2 separate regions of the Homo sapiens genome follow, and region 2 is linked to region 1. Evidence: fine-mapped expression QTL. A gene starts in region 1. The other region holds a variant in brackets. All regions are shown on one strand. Distances are from middle to middle. Region 1 holds the start of GCGR (glucagon receptor). Region 2 overlaps LOC105371929 (a long non-coding RNA gene).

What was found. PIP is the estimated chance that this variant, and not a neighbour inherited with it, causes the effect.
Region 2: its variant is the best candidate, but not a certain one, in a credible set for the expression of GCGR in unexposed skin (GTEx, PIP 0.68).

What each region holds. Positions count from the first base shown.
Region 1 is chr17:81,802,718-81,805,217 of GRCh38, forward strand. GCGR (glucagon receptor) reads left to right here and starts at 1,433. Exons shown (of 14, transcript NM_000160.5): 1 at 1,433-1,532. It overlaps LOC105376789 (a long non-coding RNA gene), which reads right to left and starts at 2,028. Exons shown (of 4, transcript XR_001753046.3): 1 at 1,941-2,028. RefSeq lists an enhancer at 902-1,401.
Region 2 is chr17:81,733,828-81,736,827 of GRCh38, forward strand. LOC105371929 (a long non-coding RNA gene) reads left to right here. Exons shown (of 3, transcript XR_935049.2): 2 at 959-2,028. Among named protein-coding and RNA genes, the nearest start is that of SLC25A10, 23 kb to the left of the region's middle. The variant G/A (reference allele first, on the strand shown) is at 1,461.

The DNA of each region.
Region 1 (2,500 bases):
TAAGACCCTGGGTTCCCACGCCCCCAAAACAGAAGTAGAATTAGGGAGAAAGGACCCCCAAGACCAAGGACGGCACCTATCAGAGGAGCTCTCCACGGGCAGGAGGTGTCCCAGGGTGAGGGTGGCCAGGACAGGTCTAGGGAAATGCAGGTGGAGCAGGACCCAGAGATGGATTGGAGATGCCGGAGGGGAGGCTTCCTAGCGGGAGCGGAGACAGGCACTGCAGACAAGTGTCAGCGGGAGGGGCTCTGGGTGGGGAAGAAGACTGGGACTTGGAGGAAGACCTCTCCAGGGAGAAGGGAGGAGGGGGAAGGAGAAGGGGAGGAAGTGGGAGGAGGAGAGTGCTCATCCTGGAAGCCACAGCCTCGGAGAGAACTTTCTAGAAGGAAGGCATGACCATCAGTGTCCCAGGATGCTGAGAGGCCAGGAAAGGTGAGGCCTCAAGGCGCCATGGGGTTGTGGTGACCCCAAGATCACTGGGCACAGAGCAGGGATGGCTGGGGGTGGAAGGGGAGGGGCGCGGGCTGAGGTTCTAGGGCCCCAAAGCCAGGTGTGATGTGGCTCTAGGGGGAGTGAGGAAGGGGAGAATGTCCCTCTGAGCGTGCCTCTTGGGGAAGGCAGGGGTTCTGGCTGGGGCTTCTCCACTCCCAGGAAAGGAGGTGGTGTGGAAGGAGCGGGTGGGACGGAGGAGAGAGCGCCCCGCGGCCGCAGGACCAGCAGGTGGGGGACCAGGGTCAGCGCTGCTGGAGGGGCCTTAGCGCGACAGGACTGGCCAGAGACCGGGGATGTGGCACAGAAAGAGTTAAAGGGCACCCCAGGGACCGCCCTGCCGGTCCACCCATGTCACCCATGTTGGCCCCTACTCCAGCCCCCGTCTGCTCTGCAGGGGAAGGAACCGGGAGCCGCGGTGGGGGCGACTGGGGGTGTCGGTCTTTCCAGAAAATCAGGCAGGCATCAGGAAAGAAGGGGCGAGAACCCGGGGACGCGAGAGGAAGGGGGCGAGGGGGCGCCCAGGGAGGCGGAGGGAGCGAGAGGAAGGGGGGCTGAGCCACGGCCCCCACGCCCGCGCGCCCCTCCGCGTCCCAGGGCGTCCCCTCCCGGAGCTGGGACCCACCGCGACCACCACCTGCTGGGCCAGGGTCCGCGGGCTCAGGGGTCTGCAGGATTAGGGTCTGCGGAACCAGGACCCGTGGGACAAAGGTCTGTGGGGCGCGGGTCCGCGGGGTGGAATTCAGCGCGCCGAGTCTGCGTATGGCCGGGGTACGAGGCGCTCCCTGCGCAGGGTGGGCAGGACCGAAGCTCGCCGGGAGGCTGCGCGGAGGGCGGGCGGGGACCCTCGGCTGCCGCTCCCACCCCCGCGGGGCCGCCCCCGAGCCCGCCCTCCGCCGCCGCCCTCGCCCTGCGTCGCCGCCGGAAAGTTTGCACCGACCCCGATCTGGCAGCGCCGCGAAGACGAGCGGTCACCGGCGCCCGACCCGAGCGCGCCCAGAGGACGGCGGGGAGCCAAGCCGACCCCCGAGCAGCGCCGCGCGGTGAGCACCTGGGCCGCGGCCCCGAGGGGACGTTGGGGAGTCGACCCGGTGGGGACAGAGACCGCGGGGCGGGCGCGGCGGGGCCGGGGGCGCGGGGAGCGGGGAGCCGGCCGGGCGGTCTCCGGGGTCCGGGCTGGTGCGCTCCTCAGTCCCGTCAGACACCCCCGTTCCCAACCCCGGCTCGGACACCACCCGGTCCTGCACCGTCGGGCAGGTCCAGGGGTCTCAGCCCCTCCCCCGTTCTCTGGTCCTGGGGGGCGCGGCTGGGGGCGGGGGTGTCGCTGGCCGCCTGGCGCCCTGCGGCGGCCACACTGCAGCGGCCACACTCCCCACTCAGGGCCCCGGGCCCCGCCGCCCTGGGGAGCGCACAAAGCGCCGCGGACGCGTCCCCGAGGCGCGGGGTCTCACCAGCGCTGTCTCCCCTCGGTGGGCTCCTGCCCCGAGGACTGCCCGGTGGCACCGGCGCGGCCCAGGATGGGGTGAGGGGTGTCTGCGCCCCGCCTGGCCGCTCCTCTTCCGCGGCCCACACTGGCGACTTTGACCCCGGCAAGCGGGTCACTGCCCTGCCCGGCTCCGGCCCCCCCGGCGCCCCACCACCCGGCCGACTCGGCCACCGGGCTTATGCTCCGACTCTGAACCGACTGACCCCGGCCCCCTCGGCGCCCGCATCCTCCAAGGACCGGCCAGGGCTGCTCTCTGCCCTTGGTATTGGGGACATCAGGGTTGGGGGGTCTGGGTGCACCCACGCCTGCCCCGCCCCCACGGGGTGAGGGCGCAGGGATAGGGCTTTGTCAACAGCCTGTGGCCCCTGATCCCGCCCCGGTGCCCTGACCTTCCACTACCTTCTCTGGTTTCACAAAAACATCCCGGCTCCCATCCCGGAGCTCCTCAAAGCGTCTGAGAGGCCCCTTGCGGACGCCCTGGGAGCCCCGCTGCCTTCCTGGACCAGTGGCCGCTCCACCCATCCT
Region 2 (3,000 bases), 69 kb before region 1:
TGAGGAGAAGCCGGCAGAGGCGGTGGGGTGGATGGTCCACCCGGCTGGCCAGCGGCCTGTCACTCCCTGAGTGGCCTCTGGGTGGCAGCCATGTGGCGCTGTCGGCTCAGGAAGGCTTGGTGCTGGAATGGGGCTGGGACATGGCCAGCCAGGCAGGGTGAGGAGGGTGGCAGCGCCCAGTGCAGCCTGGACAGATGGGGTTCTGCCCGGCAGGGCTGGCATGGGGGCTTCTTTATGCCAAGCCAGCCCTGGGGGAGGCCTCGGCTGTCCAGGGTGAAACAGGGTCAGGGTGATCAGGCTCGGTTTGTGGGGGCGGCCTGTCCTGCTGGAGGGTCCTCCTCACCCAACCCCAGCCTGCTGCAGGCTGTCTGCAGGGGAGATGGCAAAGACGGTGTTGTCCAGTTTGCTTGGGACATGAATGGTCTGGCAAATACGCAATGACACAGCTCTGGGGTCCAGATCCGGCCCAGGCGGCCGCCTGACAGAGGAGGTGCCCACAGAGCTTCCGTGAGAGGGCAGCCCAGGCCCAAGCAGCACTAGAACCCCGGCTTTGGGCTTTTGGGGACTTAGCCGGCCCCGGGGCCAGGGGTAGGATCAGGTTTCCACAGGCCAGACGGCCCCGCACAGTCACCACCGTCACCGTCACCATCACCCGGTGCTGGGCGGGCACCATGTGGACTCCACTTGGCACTGGGCCGATGGGCGGATGCCAGAGCCAGAGCAAAGGCCTCGTTAGCCCCTCGGGGAGGGCACGGCAGGGCCGGGCGACTCAGGAGGGCTGCGGGGTGACGTCTGATTGAGCCTGGAAGGACAGGCCGACCACAGGATGGAGGCCACAGCATCCTTCCCGGAGTCTGACCCCACGCTGGAGACAGAGGGGCTGGGCTGGGCTGGGCAACCTAGACCCGGGAGCCCATCTGTCCAGCCACCAGCGTCCGTCTGTCTGGGTCCCTGCTAGGGAGAGTCTGCAGCAGGGAGACCCCGGCAGCTTCGAGTATGGAGGGGAGACTCTGGCCGCCTGAGGTGAGTAACGTTGGGGGATGATTGTGGGGCTCCATTGGGACTTGGCAGGGCTCTGGGGGTGGGCACTGCAGGGGAAGCAGCTGCAGGCAGGGTGCAGAGGAGGCTCAGCTGAGTCTCCCGCGTGGGACTTCCAACCCCTCCAGGGTCTCTCCAACCCACTTCAGCTTGCAATCCACCCTCCTGCCCTGTGACCATGTGTGGTCACCCGCCCTCAGGGCACAAAAGGGGTCCAGCTCTATTTTCCAGGGACAACTCCAGACCCATGATCCCAGAAGCTTGGGGCCTGCCTTTATCCCAGCACCCAACCCCGAGAGCCCCCAGTGATGGAACTGGTGCAGCGGCCACCACTGCCCGGACCCGGGAGCAACACCGATGCCACACCTGGCGGCAGGAACAGGGCAGTGATGGGCTGTCTGCAAGGGGTCCCCCCTTCCGCA[G/A]CAGGTCTCTTGGCTGCAGCTCAGCCCCAGCCCCTGCGGTCCCCAGAGTCCCGGTCACTGGGGGCTCTGCAGGCCACCCTTCCAGGGGCATCCACCCACCCCCGAGTCCGGGTCAGGCAGAACCCAGGGCCCGCCGTCCCCTCCTGCAGGCTCAGGACCTCCTGGGGGGAGTTCCCTGTGTGATGCAGAGGGCACGCTCACCCTGCTGGGAAGGCTCACTGCTTCCCAAGGGGTCTGAGCTTTACTGGCACCTCACTGCAGTCCCTTCCCCGGGGAGACTCTGGGGCTTCCCCTGTGGGACCAGGCACCCGGAAAGGCAGCTCTGTCCCTGCTGAGTCACGCGCACCATCCTGCAGACGGGAGGGCATCTTCCTAGGCTTTCCTCCAGCCAAGAGTGGAGCTGGGACCTGGGAACCTCCCTGGAACCACCCCTGCTCTCCGGCAAGGCGTTCCACCAGCCTGTGTCTACACACGTAGCCCCGCAGAGCAGGCTTCGTGATGCCTGGAGACACCCACTTCCCCTTCCTTCTCCTGGGACTTCTCAGTCACACGGGCTGAGCTGCAGAGGGTGCGTGACCTGGGCTGAGCTGGTCTTTGGCAACTGGGGACTTTGGTTTGACGGTTGGTGGAGGGGAGACTCTCCTAACTTCCAGGGGTGTGAGTCGCAGGCGGTGCAGATGATAGGACAGTGGCCGTTGCCTAGGGCTGAAACCAACACAGCGGTGGGCGGAGCACAGGGAACTTCGGAGAGGGAGCCCGGCCCCCGAGTCAGCTGCTCCTGCGGGTGCTCCCCAAATCATCTAGTGATGTGATCCATTTGTCTTTCCAGCCCATTTCAGTTGAGTTTCCAATGACTTACAACCAATAATATCTCAACTGATACTTGGGCTCTTCAAGCACTAGAATTGTGGTGACGGCAGGAGCGTTAACACACTCTGGGGCGGGGCAGGGACTGCAGACTGAGCGGGCTCCAGGTGAATGCCAGCTTCCAGCCCTGCTGAGCCAGGCTGGGACGAACATGCTCACTAGGTCCGTCTCCACCTACTGTGGGCCAGCGCTGCGTGGCTCACTCCAGGGAAGACAGCAAGTTGGCTCAGCCGCTGCTGTGTGGCTGCTGCTCCCCTGAGTTTATGGCTGTCCATGGCATCTGCCAGGGTCCATCTGGTTTTTTGTGGGAATTGTGCCCGTGAATTTAACAAGGATTGATGGGCATTGCCATCTTGTCTTTTTTTTTTTTTTTAGACAGAGTCTCACTCTGTCGCCGAGGCTGGAGTGCAGTGGCACGATCTCGGCTCACTGCAACCTCTGTCTCCTGGGTTCACACGATTCTCCTGCCTCAGCCTCCCGAGTAGCTGGTATTATAGGCGCCCACCACCACACCCGGCTAATTTGTGTCTTTTTAGTAGAGACGGGGTTTCACCATGTTGGCCAGGCTGGTCTCGAACTCCTGACCTCAGGTGATCCGCCCGCCTTGGCTTCCCAAAGTGCTGGGATTACAGGTGTGAGCCACTGCACCTGGCCTATGTTTAATACTTTTTTA